Linked DNA regions of Homo sapiens. The protein of the gene in region 3 purifies or fractionates together with the protein of the main gene of each other region. This does not show direct contact. Each region holds a gene or a part of one and is shown on either strand. Other genes may lie near its edges.

Region 1 (6,849 bases), on a different chromosome or scaffold from region 3:
CCTTCCCCTTCTTCTTCTCCTCCTCCTCCTCCTTCTTCTTCCAGCAAATATCAAATTTGGAGAGACAATCTGGTAGATTTAGCTTGCGTAAAGGGTCTGTCTACCCCTAGCTTGGTCACCTGTGGTTAGAGGGTCAGGGTGTTGTAGTACTGACAGGACCACTGGAGCTTCATACCTCCATTTTAGGGGTCATTCCAGGAGAAGGGAGCAGCACTCCCAGAGGTGTTCATTACACCCTTAATGGTTGTGGGTCTCAATGTGACAAAAGCAGAAGAGCATCTCTATCTTTTCTTAGCTCTTGTGATCTCCATCCTGTTGTAGGAGAAAATGTCCTATTATCCCTTATTACCATGCTCTATGTCAGCTCCCATAAGAAATGGAAACTGACATCTAAGCCAGTAGAGGGAGACATTCCACAAGAGATGGCGTCATCTCCTATTTCTTCCCCACCATATGCTTTCCCACTAAAGATGACCAACAAATTGCAGGTGTCACCACTGCACTGCTCTCAGGCTTGCCCCAAGAGCTCTGGTCCAGCCTGGCCTCCAACTCGTCAGTGTTAATCAAGGTAACACAAGGAAAATATATACAGAGACTAACAACTTATTACAGTACCTCAAAACCTATGCATATTTAGACAACGAGAATCAGTATTCCTTTTAGTCATTCGTTCATTTATATATTCATGAATTTGCTCAACCGATATTTATTAAATACTGGCTATGTGCCAGGTGCATGACATAAACTGTACAGTCATTCAAACCAAGTTTCAAGTCTAAAAGCCCTTTTCCTTTGAAGTTCGTTTCCCCCTGAAGAAAGTTAGATCCTTAAGTTACCAGTCCCAAAGCCTCACCTCCCCCAATCTTAGGCTCAACACTAATTATTGTAAGTAGTTTTCATTTTCTGTCTTTCCTTTTAGACTTAAGGCTTCGCCAAGGTCTCCCCGGCCCCCAGCAAACTACCTGCTATGAAGTAGATGCTCTGTAAATAGTTGTTAAGCACAAATTGCCTTGTGCTATGGAGACTGGGCCTGACATGAGTTGTAAAAGTATCAACAAGTGTATTGACAATGGGTATCGGCAAGTCTTTGCCCTTCAAGCCAGAGAGCTGCTGGGCAGGACAGATTATCTCTGTTTTCTCTGTCACTGATTTACTACCCTTGACTTATGCAATGACATCAGCTAATATGAAGAACACTGCACTGATGACCTCAAAATAACTGAACAAATAGTACTCCCTTTCCCCTCCACCAATGGCATCAACATTCTAAAAAAATTTAAGCATCTTAATAAGCGGTGTCTCTGCAAATATATTTCTTCCCTGAAAACATGATAATATTCTTTGTAATATTAGGCAATTTAGAGTCCCAGTGTAACTGTACATAACTCTACAGAAAAAAGACATATCTAACAAGAACTAGAATTACAAAAACTCATTATCACTGCATTGCACATGCTTCACACAGACATGAATACTATACCCACATATGAGGGTAAAAAGATAAGTGAAAGTAAAAGCTATGAGTGAGTGTGTCAGCCTGATACATTATGGTCCCAAGATGACAGGCTGGCCAAAATACTCCAAAAGAACAAACACACAAAAAGAAGGTAGAGGTAAATTTTTATAATGTTTGTATCCTGTTGGGAAATATAATGTAATGGGCACAGAGTGTGGACTGTAGAGTCAGACAGTCAGGGGTCAAGTCCTCATACCAGCACCTACTACCTATACACTCTGGGGTAGTTTACTTAACCTCTCTGAACCTGTTTCACCATCTGTAGAACATAGTGGTTTCAAGAATTAAATACGATAAATGACTACCATAATTTGGCATCTGAGGCATGTACCAATGACAGCCAGTTCACTCATTCATCCCGTAATTATGTATTGAACGCCTACTATGTCTGTCTTGCTCACCAATGCATTCCCAGCCCCTATCACACTACCCGTCACTGAGGAGACTCTCAAGAACTATTTGTAAGATGAATGTTAAGTCTGTGCTGTTATGGTGCATGCATGCTGGATTGAATCCATCCTCCTTCTGACCATGGGAAGAATGCCAATCAGAGTAGAACAAAGTAGGAAAGTAAAGGAACCTTCACTTTAGTGTTGAACAAGAGTCTATTATATACTAGAAAAAACTTTACAAATTTACAGACTTCTGAAAGTTAAATGATGATTCTATTGTTAGTTGATCAAACATCAGTCATTGAAAATGTAGTAATACGTTACCTCAAAAGAAAAAAAAAAGGTTAGAGTTTTCTTAACAGATAATTCTTTTTAAATCTGTAAGAATCTGTACGTCACTAAAATAAAATCCTGTCTAGATTATTAAAATAAACTTTGTTATCAGTTATATTTTCATGGAAAATATTCCTGTATATATTTTAATTAATAGCCACATAGATATTTGCTTTTTCTGTCAGATCATGTATCCCTTTAAAAACCATTAAAGCTAAAGAAAAAAATCTTAAAATATAATATTTACTCATTGCTAATAAAGGGAACACAAATTTGGAAAGACTCAAGTGAATATTTTTTCTTAATTTAAACTGAGTACTTTGTCTCTATTAAGCTAAGTTAAAAGAATTTGGGAGGACAACCTATGCTACCAAGAGAATAATTTGTTTCTAGGAATCTGAGTTAAAAGAATTTGGGAATGCAATCTCTGCTACCTGGAGAAGAAAGAAATGTCGTGGGTCCCACACCATTCTCAAGACTCTGTTTCAAAGCATTGTTTCAATACGCTGATCCAAACCCTGATAACCTGCCATCTTTTTAATAAAATAATTTATAAATTTAATGAGAATGTTTCACTTTCCATACAAAAAACAGAAAAATGCTTTGAATCAATGCACTTACTGGGATTTGGATTACTGACTGGTGTTCCTATTGATTCTTGTAGGAGTTATTAATCCTGATTGCAACACACAAGTGAACAGACAAGAGAGATAAATTTTGTGGCTTGTGGGAAATGAAGGAAAATGGGCCTCATTTAGTCTGTGAGCATACTAATTGAAATAGATGTATGAAGACTTCACCAGTGTTAAAATAACATTGTTTTTATAAATCATATGATATAAACTATATAACAATAAAATAGAATGTTAAACATGTATTTAATCATCATCATAATTTTGATTCAGAAATCTATAATTTATTAGTTATCTTAATAATGTTTAGAATTTGTTGAACATTTTACCTTATGTGAATTAAGGACAAAATATTAAAGCTATTCAGCACAAAAAAAGGGTCTTTCTGATGTGTATTTTTCATAGAATAGGGTATGAATTTGTTATTTTGTTATTTTGATTAATGTCTAAAACAAAAGATAAACACATTATGATATAACATTACTATTGATTTTAATGGCCCCTTTTGAAATAGAATTATGTCATTGTCAGAAAACATAAGCATTTATGGTATATCATTAATGAGTCACGATTTTAGTGGTTGCCTTGTGAGTAGGTCAAATTTACTAAGCTTAGATTTGTTTTCTCACATATTCTTTCGGAGCTTGTGTAGTTTCCACATTAATTTACCAGAAACAAGATACACATCTCTCTTTGAGGAGTGCCCTAACTTCCCATCATTTTGTCCAATTAAATGAATTGAAGAAATTTAATGTTTCTAAACTAGACCAACAAAGAATAATAGTTGTATGACAAGTAAATAAGCTTTGCTGGGAAGATGTTGCTTAAATGATAAAATGGTTCAGCCAACAAGTGAACCAAAAATTAAATATTAACTAAGGAAAGGTAACCATTTCTGAAGTCATTCCTAGCAGAGGACTCAGATATATATAGGATTGAAGATCTCTCAGTTAAGTCTACATGAAAAGGATGGTTTCTTGGAGCTTCCACAAACTTAAAACCATGAAACATCTATTATTGCTACTATTGTGTGTTTTTCTAGTTAAGTCCCAAGGTGTCAACGACAATGAGGAGGTGAATTTTTTAAAGCATTATTATATTATTAGTAGTATTATTAATATAAGATGTAACATAATCATATTATGTGCTTATTTTAATGAAATTAGCATTGCTTATAGTTATGAAATGGAATTGTTAACCTCTGACTTATTGTATTTAAAGAATGTTTCATAGTATTTCTTATATAAAAACAAAGTAATTTCTTGTTTTCTAGTTTATCACCTTTGTTTTCTTAAGATGAGGATGGCTTAGCTAATGTAAGATGTGTTTTTCTCACTTGCTATTCTGAGTACTGTGATTTTCATTTACTTCTAGCAATACAGGATTACAATTAAGAGGACAAGATCTGAAAATCTCACAAACTATAAAATAATAAAAGAGCAGAATTTTAAGATAAAAGAAACTGGTGGTAGGTAGATTGTTCTTTGGTGAAGGAAGGTAATATATATTGTTACTGAGATTACTATTTATAAAAATTATAACTAAGCCTAAAAGCAAAATACATCAAGTGTAATGATAGAAAATGAAATATTGCTTTTTTCAGATGAAAAGTTCAAATTAGAGTTAGTGTGTATTGTTATTATTAATAGTTATGAAACACGGTTCAGTCTAATTTATTTATTTGTAGAACAGTTTGTCCTCAACTATTATTTTTGCTGACTTATTGCTGTTAATTTGCAGTTACTAAAAATACAGAAATGCATTTAGGACAATGGATATTTAAGAAATTTAAATTTTATCATCAAACGTATCATGGCCAAATTTCTTACATATAGCATAGTATCATTAAACTAGAAATAAGAATACACAATAATATTTAAATGAAGTGATTCATTTCGGATCATTATTGAGTTTCAAGGGAACTTGAGTGTTGTACTTATCAGACTCTACATGTAAGAACATATAGTTAATCTGGTTGTGTGTGTAAAAACATATGGTTAATCTGGTTAAGTCTGGTTAATCATATTAGGTAAGAAAAATGTAAAGAATGTGTAAGACGAAATTTTTGTAAAGTACTCTGCAAAGCACTTTCACATTTCTGCTTATCAACTAAACCTCACAGAGATAGTTTAATAGTTTAGGCTTTAAAATGGATTTTGATTATTCAACAAGTGGCCTTCATAATTTCTTTAAGTGTTTTTCTTTAAGTATATACTTTCTTTAAATATTTTTTAAAATTTCCTTTTCTCTAGTAAAGCCAGACCATCCATGCTACCTCTCTAGTGGCACTCTGAAATAAAAAGAAAATAGTTTTCTCTGTTATAATTGTATTTGTAATAAGCAGATGAATCACATTTCTTAAAATTTGTTTTAGAGAGGGTAAGCTCTGACTAGGACCATGACTTCAATGTGAAATATGTATATATCCTCCGAATCTTTACATATTAAGAATGTATATAGTCAACTGGTTAAACAGGAAAATCTGGAACCAGCCTGGCTGGGTTTTAATCTTAGCACCATCCTACTAAATGTTAAATAATATTATAATCTAATGAATAAATGACAATGCAATTCCAAATAGAGTTCATCTGATGACTTCTAGACTCACAAAATTGCAAGAGAGCTCAGTTGTTGCTCAGTTGTTCCAAATCATGTCGTTTGTTAATTTGTAATTAAGCTCCAAAGGATGTATAGCTACTGACAAAAAAAAAAATGAGAATGTAGTTAATCCAAATCAAAACTTTCCTATTGCAATGCGTATTTTCTGCTTCATTATCCTTTAATATAATATTTTAAGTTAGCAAGTAATTTTAATTACAATGCACAAGCCTTGAGAATTATTTTAAATATAAGAAAATCATAATGTTTGATAAAGAAATCATGTAAGAAATTTCAAGATAATGGTTTAACAAATAATTTTGTTGATAGAAGATAAGACTAAAAGTGAAATTCGAAGTGGAGAGGACACTTAAACTGTAGTACTTGTTATGTGTGATTCCAGTAAAAATAGTAATGAGCACTTATTATTGCCAAGTACTGTTCTGAGGGTACCATATGCAATAAGTTATTTAATCCTTACAATAATCTTGTAAGGCAGATTCAAACTATCATTACACTTATTTTACAGATGAGAAAACTGGGGCACAGATAAAGCAACTTGCCCAAGGTCTCATAGCTGTAAGTCAACCCTACGGTCAAGACCTACAAGTAGCCGAGCTCCAGAGTACATTATGAGGGTCAAAGATTGTCTTATTACAAATAAATTCCAAGTAGAATCAACCTTTAATAAGTCTTTAATGTCTCTTAAATATGTTTATATAGGAGTCTAATCACCAATTCACAAAAATGAAAGTAGGGAAATGATTAACAATAATCATAGGAATCTAACAATCCAAGTGGCTTGAGAATATTCATTCTTCTTGACAGTATAGATTCTTTACAATTTCGTAAGTTCCAATGTATGTTTTAGGAATATGAGGTCATTACTATTCATAATCTGATACAGCTTTATCCTAAGGCCTCTCTTTAAAAACTACACTGCATCATAGCTTTTTTGTGCAGTTGGTCTTTCTACTGTTACTGAACAGTAAGCAACCTACAGATTCACTATCACCAACCAGCCAGTTGATGGATCTTAAGCAAATTATCAAGCTTGTGATAACCTAAATTATAAAATGAGGGTGTTGGAATAGTTACATTCCAAATCTTCTATAACACTCTGTATTATATTTCTGCCTCATTCCTTGTAGGGTTTCTTCAGTGCCCGTGGTCATCGACCCCTTGACAAGAAGAGAGAAGAGGCTCCCAGCCTGAGGCCTGCCCCACCGCCCATCAGTGGAGGTGGCTATCGGGCTCGTCCAGCCAAAGCAGCTGCCACTCAAAAGAAAGTAGAAAGAAAAGCCCCTGATGCTGGAGGCTGTCTTCACGCTGACCCAGACCTGGTGGGTGCACTGATGTTTCTTGCAGTGGTGGCTCT
Region 2 (7,000 bases), on a different chromosome or scaffold from region 3:
GTAACCCCAGCACTTTGGGAGGCCAAGGCAGGCGGATCAAGAGGTCAGGAGTTCAAGACCTGCCTGGCCAACACGGTGAAACCTCAGCTCTACTAAAAATACAAAAATTAGCCAGGCGTGGTGGCACACGCCTGTAATCCCAGCTATTTGGGAAGCTGAGACAGAAGAATTTCTTGAACCCGGGAGGTGGAGGTTTCAGTGAGCCGAGATCACGCCACTGCACTCCACCCTGGCAGATAAAGCGAGACTCTGTCTCAAAAAAAACCCAAAAACCTATGTTAGTGTACAGAGGGCCCCAGTGAAGTCTTCTCCCAGCCCCACTTTGCACAACTGGGGAGAGTGAGGCCCCAGGACCAGAGGATTCTTGCTAAAGGCCAAGTGGATAGTGATGGCCCTGCCAGGGCTAGAAGCCACAACCTCTGGCCCTGAGGCCACTCAGCATATTTAGTGTCCCCACCCTGCAGAGGCCCAACTCCCTCCTGACCACTGAGCCCTGTAATGATGGGGGAATTTCCATAAGCCATGAAGGACTGCACAAAGTTCAGTTGGGAAGTGAAAGAGAAATTAAAGGGAGATGGAAATATACAGCACTAATTTTAGCACCGTCTTTAGTTCTAACAACACTAGCTAGCTGAAGAAAAATACAAACATGTATTATGTAATGTGTGGTCTGTTCCATTTGGATTACTTAGAGGCACGAGGGCCAGGAGAAAGGTGGTGGAGAGAAACCAGCTTTGCACTTCATTTGTTGCTTTATTGGAAGGAAACTTTTAAAAGTCCAAGGGGGTTGAAGAATCTCAATATTTGTTATTTCCAGCTTTTTTTCTCCAGTTTTTCATTTCCCAAATTCAAGGACACCTTTTTCTTTGTATTTTGTTAAGATGATGGTTTTGGTTTTGTGACTAGTAGTTAACAATGTGGCTGCCGGGCATATTCTCCTCAGCTAGGACCTCAGTTTTCCCATCTGTGAAGACGGCAGGTTCTACCTAGGGGGCTGCAGGCTGGTGGTCCGAAGCCTGGGCATATCTGGAGTAGAAGGATCACTGTGGGGCAGGGCAGGTTCTGTGTTGCTGTGGATGACGTTGACTTTGACCATTGCTCGGCAGAGCCTGCTCTCGCTGGTTCAGCCACAGGCCCCACCACTCCCTATTGTCTCAGCCCCGGGTATGAAACATGTATTCCTCACTGGCCTATCACCTGAAGCCTTTGAATTTGCAACACCTGCCAACCCCTCCCTCAAAAGAGTTGCCCTCTCAGATCCTTTTGATGTAAGGTTTGGTGTTGAGACTTATTTCACTAAATTCTCATACATAAACATCACTTTATGTATGAGGCAAAATGAGGACCAGGGAGATGAATGACTTGTCCTGGCTCATACACCTGGAAAGTGACAGAGTCAGATTAGATCCCAGGTCTATCTGAAGTTAAAAGAGGTGTCTTTTCACTTCCCACCTCCTCCATCTACTTTAAAGCAGCACAAACCCCTGCTTTCAAGGAGAGATGAGCGTCTCTAAAGCCCCTGACAGCAAGAGCCCAGAACTGGGACACCATTAGTGACCCAGACGGCAGGTAAGCTGACTGCAGGAGCATCAGCCTATTCTTGTGTCTGGGACCACAGAGCATTGTGGGGACAGCCCCGTCTCTTGGGAAAAAAACCCTAAGGGCTGAGGATCCTTGTGAGTGTTGGGTGGGAACAGCTCCCAGGAGGTTTAATCACAGCCCCTCCATGCTCTCTAGCTGTTGCCATTGTGCAAGATGCATTTCCCTTCTGTGCAGCAGTTTCCCTGGCCACTAAATAGTGGGATTAGATAGAAGCCCTCCAAGGGCTTCCAGCTTGACATGATTCTTGATTCTGATCTGGCCCGATTCCTGGATAATCGTGGGCAGGCCCATTCCTCTTCTTGTGCCTCATTTTCTTCTTTTGTAAAACAATGGCTGTACCATTTGCATCTTAGGGTCATTGCAGATGTAAGTGTTGCTGTCCAGAGCCTGGGTGCAGGACCTAGATGTAGGATTCTGGTTCTGCTACTTCCTCAGTGACATTGAATAGCTGACCTAATCTCTCTGGCTTTGGTTTCTTCATCTGTAAAAGAAGGATATTAGCATTAGCACCTCACGGGATTGTTACAAGAAAGCAATGAATTAACACATGTGAGCACGGAGAACAGTGCTTGGCATATGGTAAGCACTACGTACATTTTGCTATTCTTCTGATTCTTTCAGTGTTACTGATGTCGGCAAGTACTTGGCACAGGCTGGTTTAATAATCCCTAGGCACTTCCACGTGGTGTCAATCCCTGATCACTGGGAGTCATCATGTGCCTTGACTCGGGGCCTGGCCCCCCCATCTCTGTCTTGCAGGACAATGCCGTCTTCTGTCTCGTGGGGCATCCTCCTGCTGGCAGGCCTGTGCTGCCTGGTCCCTGTCTCCCTGGCTGAGGATCCCCAGGGAGATGCTGCCCAGAAGACAGATACATCCCACCATGATCAGGATCACCCAACCTTCAACAAGATCACCCCCAACCTGGCTGAGTTCGCCTTCAGCCTATACCGCCAGCTGGCACACCAGTCCAACAGCACCAATATCTTCTTCTCCCCAGTGAGCATCGCTACAGCCTTTGCAATGCTCTCCCTGGGGACCAAGGCTGACACTCACGATGAAATCCTGGAGGGCCTGAATTTCAACCTCACGGAGATTCCGGAGGCTCAGATCCATGAAGGCTTCCAGGAACTCCTCCGTACCCTCAACCAGCCAGACAGCCAGCTCCAGCTGACCACCGGCAATGGCCTGTTCCTCAGCGAGGGCCTGAAGCTAGTGGATAAGTTTTTGGAGGATGTTAAAAAGTTGTACCACTCAGAAGCCTTCACTGTCAACTTCGGGGACACCGAAGAGGCCAAGAAACAGATCAACGATTACGTGGAGAAGGGTACTCAAGGGAAAATTGTGGATTTGGTCAAGGAGCTTGACAGAGACACAGTTTTTGCTCTGGTGAATTACATCTTCTTTAAAGGTAAGGTTGCTCAACCAGCCTGAGCTGTTCCCATAGAAACAAGCAAAAATATTCTCAAACCATCAGTTCTTGAACTCTCCTTGGCAATGCATTATGGGCCATAGCAATGCTTTTCAGCGTGGATTCTTCAGTTTTCTACACACAAACACTAAAATGTTTTCCATCATTGAGTAATTTGAGGAAATAATAGATTAAACTGTCAAAACTACTGACAGCTCTGCAGAACTTTTCAGAGCCTTTAATGTCCTTGTGTATACTGTATATGTAGAATATATAATGCTTAGAACTATAGAACAAATTGTAATACACTGCATAAAGGGATAGTTTCATGGAACATACTTTACACGACTCTAGTGTCCCAGAATCAGTATCAGTTTTGCAATCTGAAAGACCTGGGTTCAAATCCTGCCTCTAACACAATTAGCTTTTGACAAAAACAATGCATTCTACCTCTTTGAGGTGCTAATTTCTCATCTTAGCATGGACAAAATACCATTCTTGCTGTCAGGTTTTTTTAGGATTAAACAAATGACAAAGACTGTGGGGATGGTGTGTGGCATACAGCAGGTGATGGACTCTTCTGTATCTCAGGCTGCCTTCCTGCCCCTGAGGGGTTAAAATGCCAGGGTCCTGGGGGCCCCAGGGCATTCTAAGCCAGCTCCCACTGTCCCAGGAAAACAGCATAGGGGAGGGGAGGTGGGAGGCAAGGCCAGGGGCTGCTTCCTCCACTCTGAGGCTCCCTTGCTCTTGAGGCAAAGGAGGGCAGTGGAGAGCAGCCAGGCTGCAGTCAGCACAGCTAAAGTCCTGGCTCTGCTGTGGCCTTAGTGGGGGCCCAGGTCCCTCTCCAGCCCCAGTCTCCTCCTTCTGTCCAATGAGAAAGCTGGGATCAGGGGTCCCTGAGGCCCCTGTCCACTCTGCATGCCTCGATGGTGAAGCTCTGTTGGTATGGCAGAGGGGAGGCTGCTCAGGCATCTGCATTTCCCCTGCCAATCTAGAGGATGAGGAAAGCTCTCAGGAATAGTAAGCAGAATGTTTGCCCTGGATGAATAACTGAGCTGCCAATTAACAAGGGGCAGGGAGCCTTAGACAGAAGGTACCAAATATGCCTGATGCTCCAACATTTTATTTGTAATATCCAAGACACCCTCAAATAAACATATGATTCCAATAAAAATGCACAGCCACGATGGCATCTCTTAGCCTGACATCGCCACGATGTAGAAATTCTGCATCTTCCTCTAGTTTTGAATTATCCCCACACAATCTTTTTCGGCAGCTTGGATGGTCAGTTTCAGCACCTTTTACAGATGATGAAGCTGAGCCTCGAGGGATGTGTGTCGTCAAGGGGGCTCAGGGCTTCTCAGGGAGGGGACTCATGGTTTCTTTATTCTGCTACACTCTTCCAAACCTTCACTCACCCCTGGTGATGCCCACCTTCCCCTCTCTCCAGGCAAATGGGAGAGACCCTTTGAAGTCAAGGACACCGAGGAAGAGGACTTCCACGTGGACCAGGTGACCACCGTGAAGGTGCCTATGATGAAGCGTTTAGGCATGTTTAACATCCAGCACTGTAAGAAGCTGTCCAGCTGGGTGCTGCTGATGAAATACCTGGGCAATGCCACCGCCATCTTCTTCCTGCCTGATGAGGGGAAACTACAGCACCTGGAAAATGAACTCACCCACGATATCATCACCAAGTTCCTGGAAAATGAAGACAGAAGGTGATTCCCCAACCTGAGGGTGACCAAGAAGCTGCCCACACCTCTTAGCCATGTTGGGACTGAGGCCCATCAGGACTGGCCAGAGGGCTGAGGAGGGTGAACCCCACATCCCTGGGTCACTGCTACTCTGTATAAACTTGGCTTCCAGAATGAGGCCACCACTGAGTTCAGGCAGCGCCATCCATGCTCCATGAGGAGGACAGTACCCAGGGGTGAGGAGGTAAAGGTCTCGTCCCTGGGGACTTCCCACTCCAGTGTGGACACTGTCCCTTCCCAATATCCAGTGCCCAGGGCAGGGACAGCAGCACCACCACACGTTCTGGCAGAACCAAAAAGGAACAGATGGGCTTCCTGGCAAAGGCAGCAGTGGAGTGTGGAGTTCAAGGGTAGAATGTCCCTGGGGGGACGGGGGAAGAGCCTGTGTGGCAAGGCCCAGAAAAGCAAGGTTCGGAATTGGAACAGCCAGGCCATGTTCGCAGAAGGCTTGCGTTTCTCTGTCACTTTATCGGTGCTGTTAGATTGGGTGTCCTGTAGTAAGTGATACTTAAACATGAGCCACACATTAGTGTATGTGTGTGCATTCGTGATTATGCCCATGCCCTGCTGATCTAGTTCGTTTTGTACACTGTAAAACCAAGATGAAAATACAAAAGGTGTCGGGTTCATAATAGGAATCGAGGCTGGAATTTCTCTGTTCCATGCCAGCACCTCCTGAGGTCTCTGCTCCAGGGGTTGAGAAAGAACAAAGAGGCTGAGAGGGTAACGGATCAGAGAGCCCAGAGCCAAGCTGCCCGCTCACACCAGACCCTGCTCAGGGTGGCATTGTCTCCCCATGGAAAACCAGAGAGGAGCACTCAGCCTGGTGTGGTCACTCTTCTCTTATCCACTAAACGGTTGTCACTGGGCACTGCCACCAGCCCCGTGTTTCTCTGGGTGTAGGGCCCTGGGGATGTTACAGGCTGGGGGCCAGGTGACCCAACACTACAGGGCAAGATGAGACAGGCTTCCAGGACACCTAGAATATCAGAGGAGGTGGCATTTCAAGCTTTTGTGATTCATTCGATGTTAACATTCTTTGACTCAATGTAGAAGAGCTAAAAGTAGAACAAACCAAAGCCGAGTTCCCATCTTAGTGTGGGTGGAGGACACAGGAGTAAGTGGCAGAAATAATCAGAAAAGAAAACACTTGCACTGTGGTGGGTCCCAGAAGAACAAGAGGAATGCTGTGCCATGCCTTGAATTTCTTTTCTGCACGACAGGTCTGCCAGCTTACATTTACCCAAACTGTCCATTACTGGAACCTATGATCTGAAGAGCGTCCTGGGTCAACTGGGCATCACTAAGGTCTTCAGCAATGGGGCTGACCTCTCCGGGGTCACAGAGGAGGCACCCCTGAAGCTCTCCAAGGTGAGATCACCCTGACGACCTTGTTGCACCCTGGTATCTGTAGGGAAGAATGTGTGGGGGCTGCAGCTCTGTCCTGAGGCTGAGGAAGGGGCCGAGGGAAACAAATGAAGACCCAGGCTGAGCTCCTGAAGATGCCCGTGATTCACTGACACGGGACGTGGTCAAACAGCAAAGCCAGGCAGGGGACTGCTGTGCAGCTGGCACTTTCGGGGCCTCCCTTGAGGTTGTGTCACTGACCCTGAATTTCAACTTTGCCCAAGACCTTCTAGACATTGGGCCTTGATTTATCCATACTGACACAGAAAGGTTTGGGCTAAGTTGTTTCAAAGGAATTTCTGACTCCTTCGATCTGTGAGATTTGGTGTCTGAATTAATGAATGATTTCAGCTAAAGATGACACTTATTTTGGAAAACTAAAGGCGACCAATGAACAACTGCAGTTCCATGAATGGCTGCATTATCTTGGGGTCTGGGCACTGTGAAGGTCACTGCCAGGGTCCGTGTCCTCAAGGAGCTTCAAGCCGTGTACTAGAAAGGAGAGAGCCCTGGAGGCAGACGTGGAGTGACGATGCTCTTCCCTGTTCTGAGTTGTGGGTGCACCTGAGCAGGGGGAGAGGCGCTTGTCAGGAAGATGGACAGAGGGGAGCCAGCCCCATCAGCCAAAGCCTTGAGGAGGAGCAAGGCCTATGTGACAGGGAGGGAGAGGATGTGCAGGGCCAGGGCCGTCCAGGGGGAGTGAGCGCTTCCTGGGAGGTGTCCACGTGAGCCTTGCTCGAGGCCTGGGATCAGCCTTACAACGTGTCTCTGCTTCTCTCCCCTCCAGGCCGTGCATAAGGCTGTGCTGACCATCGACGAGAAAGG
Region 3 (7,037 bases):
GCTGGGTGGCATGCACCTGTAGTCCCAACTACTTGGGAGGTTAAGGCAGGAGGATCACTTGAGCCCAGGAGTTTGAGGCTGCAGTGAGCTGTGATCACACCACTGCACTCCAGCCTGGGTGCCAGAGAGAGACTCGGTCTCAAAAAACAAACAAAAACCCACTGTTGTTCTAAGTGAATGCTGTCAGGGGAGGGGCAAAGACACAGGGAACCCCAGCGAACAGACTCCTTCTCCGTCCCATTTAGAATTCCCATGTAGTGCCCCATACAATTAGCTTCTGACCACATGTGTCCTTGGCAGACTGTCCCACCCTCTCTGAGAAAGGATGTGTCTTCCCCTGGTTGAGCCCTTCAGAATAGGAGGGTGACTCCCAATGTCCCCTGGCTGTTTGCTCACAGGCTGGCTTTCCCCCTGGTGTGGTCAACATTGTGCCTGGATTTGGCCCCACGGCTGGGGCCGCCATTGCCTCCCATGAGGATGTGGACAAAGTGGCATTCACAGGCTCCACTGAGGTAAGGTGACCCTGGCCTCAAGCTTGCAGCCTCCTTGGCCCAAGCTCCCCCTGTCCTCAGTGGACGACATGCTCAAGGTGAGCTCCCGGGTGTCAAGCGGAGGCCTTTTCCTCCAGGACGACCCTGTAGGTACCAGGAGGGGTGGGGCAGGGTTGAGCCCTTCGTGGTCTGGTTGCCACACTAGCTGCCCTTGGGAGGGGCCAGTGTCCCATGTGGACTAAGGAGGCCAGGCCTGGCCAGACTCCACATAGCCCAGAGCTGACCGCTTGCCCCAAATCAAAGCATCTTGGCCAGGTCAGACTCCTTGACCAGGACTGCCATTGTGGTTAAAAATTAGCCTTGTGTGGTGGTGTGTGCGTGTGGCCCCAGCTACTTGGAAGGCCGAGGCAGGAGGGTTGCCAGAGCCTGAGAGGTCAAGGCTGCAGTGAGCTGAGATCACGCCACTGCACTCCAGCCTAGGTGACAGAGCGAGACCCTGTCCAAAAGAAAAAAAAAGTGAACGTCTATTTGGTGAAATTCTCTAGGTCTCTCGTGGTCCAGTTGCTCACTCAAGCTGTGGGGGACTCTGTTCTGTGTCTATAGAGTGCTGGACTCTTTTCTCCCGGCACTGAGAGCTTGTTCCTGTCTTTCTGTCCCCACAGATTGGCCGCGTAATCCAGGTTGCTGCTGGGAGCAGCAACCTCAAGAGAGTGACCTTGGAGCTGGGGGGGAAGAGCCCCAACATCATCATGTCAGATGCCGATAGTGAGTTTCCAGCTGGAGAAGGCCTGGCCTTGAAGGTAGCCCTGGCCACCTGTGTTGTGGCTCCAGCCGATCCTGTCGCCCCCCCAGTGCCCAATGGCGTTGGTTGCTGTCCCTCGGGCCTCAGGATAAGACGCCAGCGCAGGGCCTGCATGGCCTGGCCTTGGCCTGTCCCCAGCCTCTCCCTGGCTGCTCTCTGCATCATCAGGCTAGGCCACGCCCCTGCTATCTGACTCATCCACTTGCCGCCATCACGCCCTTTGTCCTGGTTGGCAGTGGGCTCCGAGAGCACCCCTCATCTCCCTGTATCTGTCTCTGGCACCCAGCAGGCATCAACCCTTACAGTGGTGGGAACAGGCTCCATTGGGCAGGCGGCCACCAGGGCCAGGGTCCTCCTCCTCACTGTCACCTTTCTGTCTCCTGCCCACTTCCCGCAGTGGATTGGGCCGTGGAACAGGCCCACTTCGCCCTGTTCTTCAACCAGGGCCAGTGCTGCTGTGCCGGCTCCCGGACCTTCGTGCAGGAGGACATCTATGATGAGTTTGTGGAGCGGAGCGTTGCCCGGGCCAAGTCTCGGGTGGTCGGGAACCCCTTTGATAGCAAGACCGAGCAGGGGCCGCAGGTGAGCCAGGCAGTGCCGCAGGGTCTGGGTGTCTAGAGCCAGCATGAGAAGCAGAGAGGGCATCGGGCTCAGATCAGTTGGGACTGGGTTCAGGTCTCAGCTCTACCACACAGCAGCTGTGTGCCTTTGGGAAGCTATGTTCCCTCCCTCAGCCTTCATTTCCCCATCCCGAGCCGTGCCCTGCCTCATTCACAGGGTGGCTGTGATGTAGAAATTAATCCTGGGAAGCACTTTGTAAATTGCATATATGTAACAAATACCAGGAGTGTCTGCAAAAGGGAGTGTGTGTTTCCAAGACCTTGGTCATCAGTAGAAGTGTATCCACCAGAAGATACACAGCTCTGTGAACCTTCGTGTCTGAGAGCCATGGTATGGCTAGTATAGGGACTTTATTTCACTTCATGTTTTGAGCTGTTTGATTTTATTTATTTATTTATTTACCTATTTATATTTTAGAGACAAGGTCTCTCTTTGTTGCCCAGGCTGGAGTGTAGTGGTGCAATCATACCTCACCTCAGCCTTGAATTCCTGGGCTCAAGGAGTCCTCCTGCTTTGGCCTCTCAAAGTGCTGGGATTACAGACATGAACCACCACACCTGGCCTGGATTTTACTTTTGAGCAGTTGTAGGTTTATAGAAAAATAGAGCTGAACGTACAGAGGGTGCCCATATATTCCTTCGCACCTCCCTGTTCCACCAGTTTCCCCTTTATTCACATCCTGCATGAGTGTGGTTCATCTGTTAGTATTGATGAGCCAATACTGGTACCTTATTATTCACTTAGGTCTGTAGTGTATATTCGGGTTTTTTTTTTTAATTTTTATTTTTTTTGGAGACAGAGTTTTGTTCTGTCACCCAGGCTGCAGTGCAGTGGCACGATCTCGACTCATGCCTCCCGGGTTCAAGCAATTCTTGTGCCTCAGCCTCCTGAGTAGCTGGGACTACAGGTGCGCACCACCACGCCTGGCTAATTTTTTGTGTTTTAGTAGAGACAGGGTTTCACTCTGTTGCCCAGGCTGGTCTCGAACTCCTGAGCTCGGGCAATCTGCTGTCAGGCACCCAGCCTCGGGGTCATTTTTTGTGTTGTACTTACTATGGGCCTAGACAAATGTATCATAATGTGTATGATACCATCATTCTAGTATCATATAAATATATTTGTGCCCTGAAACCCCCGTCCTCCACCTATTCTTCCCTCTTTTCCTCCCCTGAGCCCTGGCAGGCAACCACTGATTTTTTTTTTTTTTTTTTTTTTTGAGACAGAGTCTCGCTCCGTCACCAGGCTGGAGTGCAGTGGCGTGATCTCGGCTCACTGCAACCTGTACCTCCTGGGTTCAAGTGATTCTCCTGCCCCAGCCTCCTGAGTAGCTGGGACTTACAGGTGCATGCCACCATGCCCAGCTAATTTTTGTATTTTTAGTAGAGACAGGGTTTCACCACGTTGGCCAGGATGGTCTCGATCTCCTGACCTCGTGATCCACCCACCTCAGCCTTCCAAAGTGCTGGGATTACAGGCGTGAGCCATTGTGCCTGGCCGATCTTTTTATTGTCTCTATAGTTTTGCCTTTTCCAGATTGTCTTATACGAATCATACAGTAGGTAGCCTTCTCAGACTGGCTTCTTTCTTTTAGCAGTTTGCATTTCTGATTCCTCAGTGGGGAGCCACAGCCATGTCTGAGGATGGACTGGCCTTGCCATGGGACAGGGTTATGTGCCCAACATCCCCCTCTTTGATTTTTTTTAGAGACAGGGTCTTGTTCTGTTGCCCAGGCTGGAATGCAGTGGTGTGATCATGGCTCACTGCAGGCTTAACCTCCTGGCCTCAAGTGATCCTCCTGCTTCAGCCTCCCAAGTAGGTGGGACTACAGGCACACGTCACCACACCTGGCTAATATTCATATTTTTTATAGAGATGAGGTCTTGCTATGTTACCCAGGCTGGTCTTGAATTGCTGGGCTCAAGCAATCCTCCCACCTCAGCCTCCCAAAGTCCTGGGATTGCAGGTGTGAGCCACTGTGCCTGGCCTCCAACATCTCTATCTTTAATAGCTTTATTGAGATATAATTCACGTAGCATAAAATGCACCATTTTAGTGTACGATTCAGTGATTTTTAGTATATTCACAACTTTGTGCAACCATCACCACTAATTCTATAATATTGTCATTGCCTCCCCTAAATATCCTGTACCCATTAGCAGTCACTCCCCATTCCTCCCCCTACCAGGCCCAGGCAACCACCAATCTATGTTCTGCCTATAGATTTATCTATTTTGGACATTTTATGCAAATGGAATCCTACATGGTTCTTTGTGTCTGGCTTCTTCCAAGTAGCCATGTTTTAAAGGTTCATCCATGTTGTAATAAGAATGTATCAGAACATAAAAGGCCAAGTAATATTCCATTGTGTGAATAGACCACATTTTGATTTTTCTATTAATCTGTTGACAGACTTGATTGTTTCCACCTTTTGGTTACTGTGAATAGTGCAGCTAGGGGCACTAACATTTCTTTCTTTCTTTTGAGACCGTCTCGCTCTGTCACCCAGGCTGGAGTGCAGTGGCATCATCTCAGCTCACTGCAACCTCCACCTCCTAGGTTCAAACAATTCTCCTGTCTCAGCCTCCTGAGTAGGTGGGACTACAAGTGCACGCCACCACGCCCTGCTAATTTTTGTATTTTTAGTAGAGACAGGGTTTCACCAAGATGGTCAGGCTGGTCTTGAACTCCTGACCTCAGGTGATCCACCTGCCTCAGCCTCCCAAAGTGCTGAGATTACAGGTGTGAGCCACCGCACCTGTCCTAACATTTCTTTTCTTTTTTTTTTTTTTGAGACAGAGTCTTGCTCTGTCTCCAGGCTGGAGTACAGTGGCACGATCTCGGCTCACTGCAACCTCCGTCTCCCAGGTTTGAATGATTCTCCTGCCTCAGTCTCCCGAGTAGCTGAGATTACAGGCGCCCACCACCATGCCCAGCTAATTTTTTGTATCTTTAGTAGAGACAGGGTTTCACCATGTTGGCCAGGCTGGTCTTGAACTCCTGACCTTGTGATCCGCCCACCTCAGCTTCCCAAAGTGCTGAGATTACAGGCTTGAGCCACTGCACCCGTCCTAACATTTCTTTTTGTCTCATTTCTCTTTGTGGCTAATTATTAAGATAATATAAACTTGCATTAATAAATTTAATGAGAAAGTGTTTAGGCTATGTGTGGCAGCTCACATCTGTAACCCCAACACTTTGGGAGGCTGAGGCAGGAGAATCTCTTGAGCCCAGGATTTCGAGATCAGCCTGGGCACTACAGCAAGACCTCATCTCTACTAAAAAAAAAAAAATGCAAATCATGACCAGCCTGGCCAACACGGTGAAACCTCATCTCTACTAAAAATACAAAAACTATTTGGGCGTGGTGGTGGGCGCCTATAATCCCAGCTACTCGGGAGGCTGAGGCAGGAGAATCACTTGAACCCGGGAGGCGCAGGTTGTGGTGAGCCAAAATCGTGCCACCGCACTCCAGCCTGGGTGACAGAGTGAGACTCCACCTCAAAAAATAAATAATTTTTTTTTTAAAAAAAAGCAAAAAAAAATTAGCCAGATGTAGTGATGCGTGCCTATACTCTCAGCTACTTGGGAGGCTGAGGTGGGAGCCCAGGAGGTCAAGGCTGCAGTGAGCAGTGATCACACCACTGCACTGCTGCCTGAGTGGCAGAGTGAGGCCCTGACTCTTTTTAAAAAAAGGTATTTAATGTAAAAAATAAGACTTTGTTGCATTTCTTTTATTCTCCATTGGTAACCACTCATGCACACACAGTTATGCTGTTGTATGTTTATTTTTTAAAAAATAGGCTGGGTGTGGTGGCTAACCCCTGTAGTCCTAACACTTGGGAGGGAGGCCAAGGTGAGTCAATTACTTGAGCCCAGGAGTTAGATACTAGCCTGGGCAACATAGCAAAACCCCATCCCTACTAAAAATATAAAAATTACCCAGGTGTGGTGGCACACACCTGTGGTCCAGCTACTCGGGAGACTGAGATGAGAAGATACCTGAGCTCAGGGAGATTGAAGTTGCAGTGAGCCGTGATTGTGCCACTGCTCTTCAGACTGGGCAATAGAGTGAGACCCTGTCGCCCTTCTCCCCTACCCTATAAAGGAGTATATAAGTGCATATTGTTCTACAAGCTTTACTTCTTTTTTTTTTTTTTTTTGAGACGAAGTCTCTGTTGCCAGAGCTGGAGTGCAATAGCGCGATCTTGGCTTACTGCAATCTCCACCTCCCTGGTTCAAGCGATTCTCCTGCCTCAGCATGTGCCACCATGCCCAGCTAATTTTTGTATTTTTAGTAGAGACGGGGTTTCACTATGTTGGCCAGGCTAGTCTTGAACTCCTGACCTCATGATCTGCCTGCCTCGTCCTCCCAAAGTGCCGAGATTACAGGCGTGAGCCACTGCCCCTGGCCCAAGCTTTCCTTCTTTTTACAGAGTATCTTGGGCCATCTTTCTGTGTCAGTTAGTTCACAGATCTATTAGTGATGACAATATACTGGATGCACCGTAATAATTTTAACCAACCCCTCTACTGATTTATACTTAGAATTGTTTCCATCTTTTGCCTTTACAAAATGCTCCCCCAGCCTGGGCTACAAGGCAAAACCCTGTCTCTACTAAAAATACAAAAATTAGCCCAGCGTAGGGGTGCATGCCTATAGTCCCAGCTACTCGGGAGGCTGAGGTGGGAGGATCATTTGAGCATGAGAGGCAGAGGTTACAGTGAGTGGAGATCGCACCACTGCACTCCAGCCTGGGTGACAGAGTGAGACCCCATCTCAAAAACAAAAATACAAAAAAAAAAAAATACTCCCTAGTGAATATCCTTGTTCATTTCTCTTTGTGCATATGTAGAATAAATTCCTAGAAGTTAAATAGCTGGGCCAAAGGATCTGAGTATATAATTTTTGAGCAATATTAATAAACCACTTGCTCTAAAGGCTGTACCAGTCTGTCATCCTTCTAACAGTATATGTAACGGTCTCTTGCTATCAGTGTATTTTCTTCCTAAACTTTTTGGTAATCTTATAGTTGAAAAGTAAAGATTGATTTGATGTCCTTTTCTCCGGTAGGCTGAGGAAGTTGGGCCTTTTTTGTGTTTTCTGCTATTGGCCCTGTGTGTTT
Region 4 (7,037 bases), on a different chromosome or scaffold from region 3:
TTCTGTGTTCCCTTTTTCATGCTCAGTAATTGGAAATGAGCATACTGTATTTCTCCTTTATCATTGCCTGGGTTTCCACCTGTGCAGAGTTAGGTACCTACGGGGTCCCCATCTGGATTCCTGGGCCTCTTTCCATCATTCAATCTCTCCACACGGTGCCTCTGCCTCTGGGGTAGTGTTGCCATAACCAAAGACTGGGGGTTGGTGCTGCTAAGATCAGGCTCATGGTGGAATGAGGAGCAATCACTGCTACATGGGCATCAGAAGCCTTTACCTGGCTGTGGGCTCTTGAGCGAGTCATTCTCCCGCATGTTCTCTGGCCTTCAGTGCTCACTCCAGACCTCTCAGCTCATACTTTCTATGATCAATTGAATTTCAAGGATGGGCACCACAGCCCATGGCTCTCCTGTGTTAAGCTCACCTGGGCTTTCCCTCCCCAGAGAACTTGGCAAACAAGGCTGACAGGGACCAGTATGAGCTGCTTTGCCTGGACAACACCCGGAAGCCGGTAGATGAATACAAGGACTGCCACTTGGCCCAGGTCCCTTCTCATACCGTCGTGGCCCGAAGTATGGGCGGCAAGGAGGACTTGATCTGGGAGCTTCTCAACCAGGCCCAGGTATCCCCACCTGCCATCCTCCCCTCCAGCTTAGTGCTCCCTGCTTGGATTTGGGGGTTTTCCTCCTGGCCATCTTGTCACTCTGGAAGTCTGTGTGTTCAGGATACAGTGGGAGCCATGCCACATGTCACTAAGTTCTCTAAAAGCTGGGACTCCCCACAGAGCAGCAGGGAGCCTGCTGTGGTGCTACCGTCTGCCGCCCTTGCCTTTCTGGCTGGTGACACCTGAAGAGGCTCTGTATTGCTCTGTTGCATTCCTTTCTACCTAAACTTCAAGGCCCAAAGCTAAACCCCTCCCCAAGGAGGCTTTCCATGACCCTCCCAGAAGGAAATGGTCTCTCTCCCCATGCCCCTCAGCCCGGCTGTGAGGGGGCTGCCTGCACAGCGGCTTTACTTCCCAAGAGCTGTGTGATTTGGGCTCAGCCAGCTTCCTCTTGCCGAGCCGTCCCATCTGTCCACTGAGAGTTTGACTGGTAACCACACAGGGCAGCCTCTGGATTAGCCACGTTTCTTGTTCTCACCGATGTCTCAACCCGTTCCGGGAGACAGGCACAGAAGCAGGTTCAGGCAAATCGCGGACCCACGAGGGCTACAGGCAGAGGAAGTGCTGGGTGAGCAGGAGCAGGTCCGACTGCCCTCTCTCCTGGCATCTTGAACTTTTTCATGTTGTTTCCTGCAGAGATTTCTTTTCTCTTCAGTCCCATTTCTCAGCCTCCTTTCTTCTGTGTTGCCATCCACTATTCTGTTTTTCTATGAACAGGAACATTTTGGCAAAGACAAATCAAAAGAATTCCAACTATTCAGCTCTCCTCATGGGAAGGACCTGCTGTTTAAGGACTCTGCCCACGGGTTTTTAAAAGTCCCCCCCAGGATGGATGCCAAGATGTACCTGGGCTATGAGTATGTCACTGCCATCCGGAATCTACGGGAAGGCACATGTGAGTACCTGGGAAGAACCAGGTGACCACAAGCACTTGGGAAACCTGGTGAGCACAGGGGCCAGAGATTGAGTCTTTTCAGGGACCTGCACGCCTCTCCTGATGCTCCTTTTTCTGACCTGTCTGTGAGCCCAGTGTTAGACTGATGCTGAATGGCGTTAGTCATTATGAGATGGCCTTGATGTCACCATGGGCTTTACAGGAAATCCACATTTAAAATGACGTGGGTTGGTTCCAGTATTTCCTTTGCATCAATCAGGACTGCCTTACCTACTCTGTGAAGGCAATTAGCTTATCACAGAGTAAGTGAAATAGAACAAAATTGCTATATATTGCACATCTCCAGCCAGTCAACATGTACCATAATGAAGAGGTGCTCTAAGAGAGGTTGATCCCAGTCCTGGATTTCACTGAGTCACTGTGGTTTTGCTTGACCATTCATTTATTCAGCAGACATTTATTGAACATCTAGCCATATGCTCTGCTAGGTGCTGGACATAGGATGGCATGACAAATATATATTTGATTCTGTTGTCCTGGAAATTTCAAACTGGGGAGAAGATAAATGTTTAATGAATAGTCATGCTATTGGATGATGAATTACAAAGTAAGAGATATGTTTAAAAGGGGAAAAATATGACAACAAAATACCATGGCCCTATGAGACTGCAAAACAAAGAAAAATAGGCCCTGGACTTGGCGTTAAGGCAAAGCTTCCTTGAGGAAGTGACTCTTGAGCTCAGTCTGAAAGATGAGCAGATGTACATTTATTCATCAGACATTTATTATGCTGACCATGTGCTAGCATTGCCCTAACCCTGAGGATGCCCTGGTGAACAAGACAGGCAGGGCCCTTTCTGTGTTGGAGCTTCTGTTCTCCTGCAGAAAACCTGACAATAAACAATGAACATATAAATAAGAACACCTCCAGTAGTTAAGTGCTATCTGAAAAACAAGAAGGAAAAAAACAGCCAGAGGTCATATAGTGCCCAGAGGCTGGAGAGGAAAGTTGGCTTCTCGGAAGACATAAAAAACTAAATTTAAATGAGAAGTCAACCAAGAGATTGTGCATTGACTTTGCTTTCTAAGGTGATTAATTCCTTGAATGGGGTCTGTTTGTTTATTGCTGGCAAATCCCAGCATTTGCATGAAGACAGTGAGTAGTGCTGACAAACACCAGGCAACAGCTAGGGCCGCTTCTGATCTTTGTTCTTTTTTTATGCCATAGGCCCAGAAGCCCCAACAGATGAATGCAAGCCTGTGAAGTGGTGTGCGCTGAGCCACCACGAGAGGCTCAAGTGTGATGAGTGGAGTGTTAACAGTGTAGGGAAAATAGAGTGTGTATCAGCAGAGACCACCGAAGACTGCATCGCCAAGATCATGGTATGTCACTCCAGCCTTCCTAGGGCAGCGTCCCTGTCATTGCTGCCTGCTGGCCCCCAAGACTGAGCTAGGGAGTGTTCCTGGGAATGATGCAAAAACCTGGCTCCCAGGAACCTTGCCCTGACTATGTGAGCACAGCCCCACCGGAGGTTCAGAATCTTTGAGCTTGTGGATCTGAAGGGTGCCCACAGGGCTCAGTTTCCTCCTTGTATGAGTGTATGGTGAAAGGGCAGGCTGAGCAGTGCCTGCTTAGGGAGGCTGGACCATGGTGTGGGTGTCCTGAGACCAGTGGTGTGCCACGATCACTGAGATAAGATCCTGAGTACATGGTAGGATCCAATCAGGTACAAATTTGCTTTGTTGATCAAAAGAGTATCCTAGCCTGGCATGGTGGCATGCACCTGTAGTCCCAGCTACTTCGAAAGCTGAGGCAGGAGGATTGCTTGAGCCCAGGAGTTCAGGGCTAGCAACTTAGCAGGACCTTGTCTCTAACAACATTTTTTTTTTAAGAAAGAATATTCCATGTTGGCTTACAGAGAATTTTTAAAATCCTGAATGATATAAAGAAGAAATAAAAAGTACTTATAATCATGTAATTCAGAGAAAATTCCCTTATTGGGATCATTTCATGTAGGTTGCTTGCTACCTTTTACTCACTCACAGTATCTAGTAAGCTTTTCCCATATCATAAATCATTCTTGTAAAACCTAATCTGGAGCTTCTGTGTTAGTGCACACATCGAGATGGGGGAGTATGGTTTGCCTAGAGAGAACATGAAGTGCCAAGCTCCACTCCCCCTCCTCCCCACATTTCTTGCCCTCTGTGTCTCTTCCATTTGGCTATTCTTGAGTTGGATCCTTTATAATAAATCAGCAAATATATTGAAACAAAGATGCATATTATAAAGGTACTTCCTGCCATTGTCAACAGATTTTTGCTGAAATATGTTAATTCTACTTTTTGAGCACTTATGAATAACCATGTATCTTCAGAACTATCTACCATGAAGCAAAAAGGGACCATCAAGCTCATTATTTTATATTTCATACAATTTATAGATATCACTTTATGCTATTTTAACATATATTCCATTTTAATTTTTGTCTGAGTCAAGACAAGAAAAACCAAACTAAGTTAAAGCAAAGCCTACAAATTCAAAACCTGAGTCTATACAAATCTGTTAGCAGTTTGAGTGGCTGGGCTTCAATATTATACTCTGGATGTGATACAATAGATAAAGTTTTTTACGTCTGTAAAAAAAAGGAAGAGCAAAAGACTCTTGGGAACATGTGAAATCTTAAATGAAGATTAAGTACAACCAAATGTAAACATATTTTAAAAGGTTCTTCTTGGACATCATAATTTGCTCTCCTATGAAGATGTCATCGTTTGAGCCTTTAATGTTGGAAATAGCTTACAGATGTTGGGGCAGAAACCAAAGACCAACATTGCCATGTTCTGTGAGACCACGTCCAAGTGGATGATTGCTGGATAGGTATGTTTCATGCATAACATTTAGTTCATAAAATTATATGCTACTTTAGGAGGTCCAGGGCCCATGGATTAATGAAACAAAAGTAACTAATCTCATTGCTAGTAAAGAATTATTGGAAACAAAGTTGAAAGACATAGTTTATTTGGTCCCACACCTGTGACACATCATCACTGTCAATGGGAAGCCACTGACCTGTCCCAATTTCCCAAGGTTGTTATCATGGACATCATGGCTGCAGTAGAAAGTGAAGGTGAGTGTGGAAAACAGATCCCAAAGTGACCAGTGCCCTCGGTTATTGCAGTAATCATGTTCATGAGTAGACACACAGGACTTCCAAAGGGAGTCATCATCTCGCATAGAAACATCATTACTGGTATTACTGGGATGGCAGAAAGGATTCCCAGACTGGAGGAGGAAGATGACTACATTGGATATTTACCTGTGGCCCATGTTCTAGAATTAAGCTTTGAGCTTCTTTGTTTTTCTCATGGATGCCTGCTTGGCTCCTCTTCACCCCAGACTTCAGTGGATCAGTCTTTAAAAGTAAAAAATGGGCTGCCCACTGTGGCATGCAGCTGTAGTACCAGCTACTCAGGAGGCTAAGGTAGGAGGATTGCTTGAGCCCAGGAGTTTGAGTCCAGCCTGGGAAACATAGTGAGACACCATCTCAAAAAAATAAAAAATAAAAAAATAAAAACCAGAAGCAAAGGGTGTACTTCTGGGTTGAGACCAACACTGATGGCAGCTGTTCTGGAAATCATGGATCAGATCTACCAAAATGTCATGAATTAAGTGTATGAAATCAGTAGTCTTCAACACAATCTGTTTATTCTGGCTTATAATTATAAAATGGAACACATTTCAAAAGAGCATAGTACTGGATTGTGTGACAGCTTTGTTTTCTGGAAACTGTGAAGCTAGCTAGGTGGAAATATTCAGCTTTTATTGTATGAAAGTGCTCCACTTTCTGCAACACGCAGCAAGTTCATGAATACAGACTCACTGAACCTACAGGGGCTGGAACAATTACAGATGTGTGGATTACAAGACTGGCAGAAGTGAGAGTCCCATTAGTTTGCTGTGAAATTAAATTAAAGAACTGGGAGGAAGGTGGATACTTTAATACTGAAAAACCACATCCCAGAGGTAGAATTCTTATCGGTGGCTAAAATGTGACAATGGGATGCTACAGAAATGAAGCAGAAACAAAAGCTGATTTATTTGAAGATGGAAATGGACAGAAGTGATTATGTCCTAGAGATGCTGAAGAGTTTGATGGTTGTTTACAGATGATCGATCATAAAAAGGACCTTGTAAAACTACAGGCAGGAGACTATGTTTCCCTTGGGAAAGTAGAGCCAACTCTGAAGAATCTCCCAGTAATAGATGACGTTTGTGCATTTGCAAACAGTTAATTGTTCTTATGTCATTGGATTTGTTGTGCCAAATCAAAAGGAACTAACAGAACTAACTTGAAAGAAAGGACTTACAGGAACTTGAGAGTAGCTCTCTAACAGTTGTGAAACAGAAGATGAGGTGCAGTAGTCCCCCTTTATGTGAGGTTTCGCTTTCTTGGGTTATACCTACAGTCAACCGTGGTCCAAAAATGTTAAGATATTTTGAGAGAGAGAGAGAGCACATTAACATAACTTTTATTATAGTATGTTATAATTGTTTTATTATTGTTGTTGTTAATCTCTTACTGTGCCTAATTTATAAACTTTATCATAGGCTTGTATGTATAGGAAATAAACATTGTATAGGGTTTCAGGTTCCAAGACTGGGGGTCTTGGAACATATCCCTTGAGGATAAGAGGGGACTACCATACGTAAAGTACTTTCTGAAGCTGCTATTTGGGCGTGTCTGAAAAAGTTTGAAAATCTATTAAAAATTGGTTTGAGCCCTGACCCATGAATCCTGAAACTGGTCTGGTGACAGGTGCCTTCAAGCTAAAACACAAAGAATTTAATACACATTACCAGGCAGACTCTGAGCGAATGTGTGGAAGAAATGATTTTTCTCTTTTGGCATCAGTTTGCTACAGTGAGCTCAAATCAAATAGGAAATTATTTGAAATGCATGTTTCAAACTGTGAGGCAAACTCCATTCTTCATATTCAACCTAGATTTTTACTTCTTAAGACATCACCATTTTCAACAGACAGGATTAGTAAAATAGTAGGAGAGCAAACTTGTGTCTGTCTTTTTCCTTTTCCCCTCCTACAACTACCTTTACCTAACCTGTGACTGTATTGTCAGTATAAGGAGTTTTCTGAATCATAGTGAGGAAGCAGATTTCTAAAACCTCAAGTTTCTAAACATGACCTATATATTCAGTTTATGTTTAAAGTTTGGATGTGTAGAGGGAGTTATGGAAAATATATAAAGTGGCTGTTGGGGGGTGCTTTTTAACTTACAGTATTAAAAAAATGCAAGGCTATTGATGTGAAATTACATACATTTCAAATGCTTATGAATCAAATCATTATTGAGGATAATATTTGCTGATGTGTAATTACTATCTTGCATGAATTAAGAGAAATAAATATAGCCATACTTACGTTTTAAAGAAAAAAATGATATTTTAAGACTGATATCTATTC

Evidence for each region.
Region 1: the proteins of ALDH2 (region 3) and FGB purify together in Homo sapiens (affinity purification with mass spectrometry; 3 studies listed by BioGRID and IntAct, with this or other methods). This does not show direct contact.
Region 2: the proteins of ALDH2 (region 3) and SERPINA1 purify together in Homo sapiens (affinity purification with mass spectrometry; 3 studies listed by BioGRID and IntAct, with this or other methods). This does not show direct contact.
Region 4: the proteins of ALDH2 (region 3) and TF purify together in Homo sapiens (affinity purification with mass spectrometry; 3 studies listed by BioGRID and IntAct, with this or other methods). This does not show direct contact.

The regions. Positions count from the first base shown.
Region 1 is NC_000004.12:154,559,186-154,566,034, forward strand, and holds the start of FGB (fibrinogen beta chain isoform 1 preproprotein), read left to right. Parts: upstream 1-3,825; 5' UTR 3,826-3,833; coding exon 3,834-3,947; intron 3,948-6,622; coding exon 6,623-6,814; intron 6,815-6,849. UniProt on the Homo sapiens protein: Cleaved by the protease thrombin to yield monomers which, together with fibrinogen alpha (FGA) and fibrinogen gamma (FGG), polymerize to form an insoluble fibrin matrix. Fibrin has a major function in hemostasis as one of the primary components of blood clots.
Region 2 is NC_000014.9:94,378,603-94,385,602, reverse strand, and holds part of SERPINA1 (alpha-1-antitrypsin precursor), read left to right. Parts: intron 1-2,223; exon of another isoform or gene 2,224-2,361; 5' UTR 2,362-2,365; coding exon 2,366-3,011; intron 3,012-4,461; coding exon 4,462-4,732; intron 4,733-5,991; coding exon 5,992-6,139; intron 6,140-6,962; coding exon 6,963-7,000.
Region 3 is NC_000012.12:111,790,908-111,797,944, forward strand, and holds part of ALDH2 (aldehyde dehydrogenase, mitochondrial isoform 1 precursor), read left to right. Parts: intron 1-398; coding exon 399-512; intron 513-1,153; coding exon 1,154-1,256; intron 1,257-1,690; coding exon 1,691-1,875; intron 1,876-7,037. UniProt on the Homo sapiens protein: Required for clearance of cellular formaldehyde, a cytotoxic and carcinogenic metabolite that induces DNA damage.
Region 4 is NC_000003.12:133,756,391-133,763,427, forward strand, and holds part of TF (serotransferrin isoform 1 precursor), read left to right. Parts: intron 1-440; coding exon 441-619; intron 620-1,378; coding exon 1,379-1,556; intron 1,557-2,784; coding exon 2,785-2,939; intron 2,940-7,037. UniProt on the Homo sapiens protein: Transferrins are iron binding transport proteins which can bind two Fe(3+) ions in association with the binding of an anion, usually bicarbonate.